Linked DNA regions of Homo sapiens: region 2 is linked to region 1. The links come from fine-mapping of genetic effects on gene expression. A gene starts in region 1. The other region holds a variant in brackets. All regions are shown on one strand. Distances are from middle to middle.

Region 1 (2,912 bases):
TTGGGAGGCGGAGGCGGGTGGATCGCCTGAGGTCGGGAGTTTGAGACCAGCCTGACCAACATGGAGAAACCGTGTTTCTACTAAAAATACAAAATTAGCCAGGCGTGGTGGCACGTGCCTGTAATCCCAGCTACTTGGGAGGCTGAGGCAGGAGAATTGCTTGAAGCCAGGAGGCAGAGGTTGCAGTGAGCTGAGATTGTGCCACTGCACTCCAGCCTGGGAACAAGAGTGAAACTCCGTCTCAAAAAAAAAAAAAAGAAAAGAAAAGATTTGTGCACTTTACTGTATATAATATCTAGATGTTTAAAATGCAATGGGAGCATAGAGAAAGAAGTACCTAACTCGGAGTAAAGAAATCCTGGCAGACTTCACTGGGAATGTTTGAACTGAATCTTGAATAGGAGCTTGTCCATAGAGGGTCACGGATCTCCCACACAGAGAGCACCACAAAATCCTCAGCAATTTGGTGAGAGTATGGTACAAGATGATAGTGGCCTGGGGCTTGAACAAGAGGCTGAGTGCGGTGGCTCACACCTGTAATCTCAGCACTTTGGGAGGCTGAGGCGAACACCTGAGGTCAGCAGTTCGAGACCAGCCTGGCCAAAATGGCAAAACCCCGTCTCTATTAAAAATACAAACATTAGCCGGGCATGGTGGCAGGTGCCTGTAATCCCAGCTACTCAGGAGGCTGAGGTGGGAGGATTGCTTGAGTGTGGGAGGCGGAGGTTGCAGTGAGCCGAGATCATGCCACTGCACTCCAGCCTGGGTGACAGAGTGAGACCCTGTCTCAAAAAAAAAAAAAAAAAAAAGTTAGACGTCTAGTACAGGAACCATGCAACACATCGAGTCAGCCAAGGGCAAGGTAAGGAGAGTGATGAGGAAAAAGGGGTGGCTGCCCTGCTCGGTGCTGTTCTGTCAAAGAGCCGAAATTCTTCGCGGGGTGGCAGATGAGGACAGGAACAGCTGGGGTGTGGCAAGTGTTGCTGCCTGGGGAGAGCGGAGGGTGAGGTGTTTCTCACGGGTGCATCCAGTGACTCATCAGGACAGCGGAGCTCATGAGGCCATGTCTCCCGTTTCCTGCCTTAGAATCACATGAAAATGAGCAGAGGGTGGGTCATCAGGACAGGGCTCTCCGGGGAGCGGAAGCGCCTTCAATGCAGGCCTGTGGGCAGGGGCGTGGGGGCGCGCACACACACACGCCTGGGTGACCTCTACGTATATACAGAGCCTCCCTGGCCCTCCTGGAAAGAGTCCTGGAAAGACAACCTTCAGGTCCAGCCCTGGAGCTGGAGGAGTGGAGCCCCACTCTGAAGACGCAGCCTTTCTCCAGGTTCTGTCTCTCCCATTCTGATTCTTGACACCAGATGCAGGTAAGCAGAGATGAAAGGGTGAGGTGACGGCCAGGGAACAGCCTAGCCTCACAGATGAGAGTGCACGCTTCCACTCCAGTGAGCCTGGCTCTGCAGCTTGGCGTCTGTGTGACTTTGCGCCATTCACTTACCTTCTCCTGTTGCCTCAGTCTGTCAACTTCTGGCCTTTGCACCTAGAATACTCTTCCTGCCTAGTATCTCATCGTCCATCAAGTTTGGGCATGGGCAGCCCTTCCTCCGGGAAGCTTCGTTTTGCTTCTGCCAGATAGGATTAGGTTCCTCCATGTGCTTCCATGACACCTTAAGTTGGATGCCCCTGCCTGGTACTTACTGTTACCAGCTGTGAATCCAGCGAGTCTGCAGCAAACTCAATCCTTGCCTTCTCGGGGGAGAGATTCGGCTGAGGGGCAGAAGTGGGTTTAAGGCAGAGGGAGAGGCTGAAGCAAGTTTGAGAGCAGGAGTGAAGGTTTATTAAAAAGTTTTTGAGCAGCAATGAAAGGAAGTAAAGTACACTTGGAAAAGGGCCAAGTGCGTGACTTGAGACACCCAAATGTGCTGTTAGACCCTTGACTTGGCGCCTGCCTGCCGCACAGGCACTTGGGAGGGGCCGCATGCGCAGTGTGTTTACTGAAGTCGTGCGCATGCTCACTTGAGGCGTTTTTCCCTTACCCGCGGAGCAGCACTAGAGGAAGGTCACACACACCAGCTAAACTCCACCATTTTGCTTCTTAGTGTAGATGCTTGAGCCCACTCGCCCAATTCCTGAGCTCTTACCAGGAAGCTGCTGATCACCAAGTTCAGGTATTTTCTATCTATTGGGAGACTGTCTTTCCCAACGCTGGCTGTGACCAATATTATTTTAGAAAGACAGTGTAACAACCGCCTGGCCATCACCTGATAGTCACCTGACATTACTGGGGTAGAGGCCCTCTCCCGCCCTGCTCATGTCTGCTCTATTTCTTACCACACTTGATTAGAATTACTTTTTGGCCAGCCTGACCCACATGGCGAAAACCCATCACTACTAAAAATACAAAATTAGCCGGGCGTGGTGCATGCCTGTAATTCCAGCTACTTGGGAGGCTGAGGCAGGAGAATAACTTGAACCCGAGAGGCGGAGGTTGCAGTGAGCCAAGAGCATGCCGCTGCACTCCAGCCTGGGCAACAAGAGCGAGACTGTGTCTCAAAAAAAAAAAAAAAAAAAAAAAAAAAGAATTGCTTTTTGCGTCAGCAGTGTCCCCACTAGACTTTAAGCTCCTCAAGGAAAGGGATTACATCTTTTTCATCGTTATATCCCTAGCCCCCCAAGTGTCTGTCAGGTAGTGATCACTTAATAAATATCCGACTGAAGGAAGAATGAAAGAAAAGCCTTGCTGGGTGGCGAGGGAGAGACACAGATGTAGAGAATGTGCGGTCTCTTCCTCCATGGAATTGAGCCGATCACTTCTGTTGTTGCCTGGACATCTAGCCGATGACGTGCTCACCTAGCTAGGACCTCAGGACAGAACAAGGAACTCCCCAGCAGCCTGGTTTTAAGGTTTT
Region 2 (2,912 bases), 88 kb before region 1:
CTATTCTGAAAGAGCAATTTTTAAAAATGTTTTGAAGCCAGGTGCGGTGGCTCACGCCTGTAATCCCAGGCACTTTGGGAGGCCAAGGCGGGTGGATCACCGGAGGTCAGGAGCTTCAGACCAGTCTGGCCAACCTGGTGAAACCCTGTCTCTCCGAAAAATACAAAAATTAGCTGAGCATGGTGGTGCACGCCTGTAGTCCCAGCTACCCAGGAGGCTGAGGCAGGAGAATCTCGTGAACCCAGGAGACGGAGGTTGCAGTGAGCCGAGATCCAGCCACTGCACTCCAGCCTGGGCGACAGAGCGAGACTCTGTCTCCAATTTTAGTATATGTGCTGCTGAAGCGAGCACAGAGCGAGACCCTGTCTCAAAAAAAGAAAAAGTAAATAAAAGTAAAAATGTTTTGAGCCATGGCAGTATTCCATTAGCACCAACTTTGGGCTGACATCCACTACACATATACACTGGTGCACATGTGTAATCAGAATAATTCATGGAGTGAAGGTGAGGGATACATAGACACTATAGAACAGGTGAAAAATAAGCTAGCAGTCTAAGGACAAATGTGAGGGCATAGAAAGTGGAGGCTAAGAAGAGTACAAGAGGTTACTGGTACGGAAATTCATAGAGCTTTGTGCATAGCGGCAATAACATACTTGAGAAAATTATAGAACCTCAGTTGTAGAAGAGACCTTAATCTTTCAGATGGTTGATGAGTGCATATTTATTATAAAAATTAGGGGCTGTCATGTTTGTGGTATTTAACTTTATGGCCAATTTCCATTCATGTTCTTTTTTTTTTTTTTGAGACAGAGTCTCACTCTGTGGCCCAGGCTGGAGTGCAAAGGTACGATCTTGGCTCACTGCAGCCTCCACCTCCCGGGTTCAAGCGATTCTCCTGTCTCAGCCTCCTGAGTAGCTGGGATTACAGGCATGCGCCACCACGCCCGGCTCATTTTGTATTTTTAGTAGAGACGGGGTTTCTCCATTTTGGTCAGGCTGGTCTCGAACTCCCGACCTCAGGTGATCCTCCTGCTTCGACCTCCCAAAGTGCTGGGATTACCGGTGTGAACCACCGCGCCTGGCCTCATTCATATGCTTTTGTACAGAACATTTCCTTTCTCTTGGGTTAATATTAAACTATGATTAAGTTCTCTGTGTCTGGAAAGGTGGTCACAGTATTATAGATGTTAAGAGAAAACTTCAGGAATTTTAAGAATAGTTTCAATAGGGAATACATTTCAGAATTTCTTTTTTTTTTTTTTTTT[G/TG]AGACGAAGTCTTATCCTGTCACCCAGGCTGGAGTGCAGTGCTGTGATCTTGGCTCATTGCAACCTCCGCCTCCCCGGTTCAAGTGATTCTCCTGCCTCAGCCTCCTGAGCAGCTGGGACCACAGATGCGCGTCACGACACCCAGCTAAATTTTTTGTATTTTTAATGGAGATGGGGTTTCATCTTGTTGGCGAGGCTGGTCTCAAACTCTTGACCTCAGGTGATCCACCCACCTCAGCCTCCCAAAGCGCTGGGATTACAGGCTTGAGCCACCATGCCTGGCTGAAGTTTCAGAAATTTAAGGGAGGTAATTTTGAGTTGCGAATGGAATCTTACTAGTAGATTCATTTATTGGTAGACTGCTACGTGCCAGGCATGGTTCACATCTTAAGGATACAACTGTGAGCAAGGCGTGGTGTCTGTCCTCAGAAAGCTTAAAGGTTAACAGGAATAGAGACACACGAATAGGTATTAGAATACAGTGAGAGAATGGTAAGGAGCTAATACTGGAGCACAAAAGAGGGAGGTCAAGAAAACCTTCCCAGAATAAATACTTTTTTATCTAAAATCTGGAAGATGTTTCTTGCAGGAGAAACATGCAGAGACTTGGAGGGGAATTGGGCAGACATGTATACAGACAGAGATGAGAGAGGGGAGACAATCGGTTTAGGGAATTGATAATTCCAAATGAGTAAAGCACAGCTAGTGCAATAAATGGACCTCAAGAGATAAATGGGAGATTGGGTTGGGCCTTATAAGCCATGTTAAAAAAAATCTTGTCTTTATTCTGAGAATAGTGGGGAGTCAAGGGTTTTAATTAGAGGAGTGAGACTGGGCACTGTGGCTCACACCTATAATTCCCGCACTTTGGGAGGCTGAGGTGGGAGGCCTGGAGCTTGAGATCAGCCTAGGCAACATAGTGAGACCCCATCTCTACAAAATGTATTAAAATTTTATTTATTAAAAAAGGAGTTACATCTGATTTGACCTTTTTTTTTTTTTTAAAGAAAGAGTTACTTGGCTATAATGGAGAAGAGATAGGCACAGAGATCAGTAGAAGGCTGTTATATTAACCCAAGAAAGATAGTGGTGTCCTGAAAAAAGTTAGTGGCGGAGAAGTGGACTCCAAAAGGTATGGGAAGAAATCAGAGTCAAAATGAAGTTTAGGATTCTGTTTTGGACACCTAGGTATGTAACAGTGCTATTTATGAAGGTATGGAATAGCAGAAAGGTGTGGGGAGAAGATGGTTAGCTCAGTTTTGGATAAGTTAAGGTGCTGCTAATAGGACTTCCAGATGGAGCTGTTGAAGCAGATGAATATTTGGGTCTAGAAAGAAGAGTGAGAAATCTGTCATATTCATGGCAGTTAAAGTTATAAAAATGGGGCTAGGTGCGGTGGTTCACACCTGGAATCCCAGCACTTTGGGAGGCCGAGGCGAGTGGATCACCTGAGGTCAGGAGTTTGAGACCAGCCTGACCAACATGGTGAAACCCCGTCTCTACTAAAAATACAAAACTAGCCGGGCATGGTGGTGTGTGCCTGTAATCCCAGCTACTCAGGAGGCTGAGGCAGGAGAATTGCTTGAACCTGGAAGGCGGAGGTTGCAGTGAGCTGAGATCACGCCATTGCACTCCAGCCTGGGC

Alleles and levels. Alleles are on the strand shown, and positions count from the first base shown. SD is a standard deviation of normalised expression in the study named.
For the expression in monocytes after LPS of the gene that starts at base 1,246 in region 1, allele TG in region 2 goes with a higher level than allele G (small effect, 0.39 SD a copy in Fairfax 2014).

What was found. PIP is the estimated chance that this variant, and not a neighbour inherited with it, causes the effect.
Region 2: its variant is fine-mapped to the expression of TM4SF19 in monocytes after LPS (Fairfax 2014, PIP 0.95).

What each region holds. Positions count from the first base shown.
Region 1 is chr3:196,336,722-196,339,633 of GRCh38, reverse strand. It overlaps TM4SF19 (transmembrane 4 L six family member 19), which reads left to right and starts at 1,246. Exons shown (of 5, transcript NM_138461.4): 1 at 1,246-1,370. TM4SF19-DYNLT2B (TM4SF19-DYNLT2B readthrough (NMD candidate)) reads left to right here and starts at 1,214. Exons shown (of 6, transcript NR_037950.1): 1 at 1,214-1,370. RefSeq lists a silencer at 942-1,113 and enhancers at 862-1,156, 523-1,722.
Region 2 is chr3:196,424,742-196,427,653 of GRCh38, reverse strand. The region is part of intron 1 of UBXN7 (UBX domain protein 7); the gene reads left to right. Among named protein-coding and RNA genes, the nearest start is that of UBXN7-AS1, 5.2 kb to the left of the region's middle. The variant G/TG (reference allele first, on the strand shown) is at 1,269.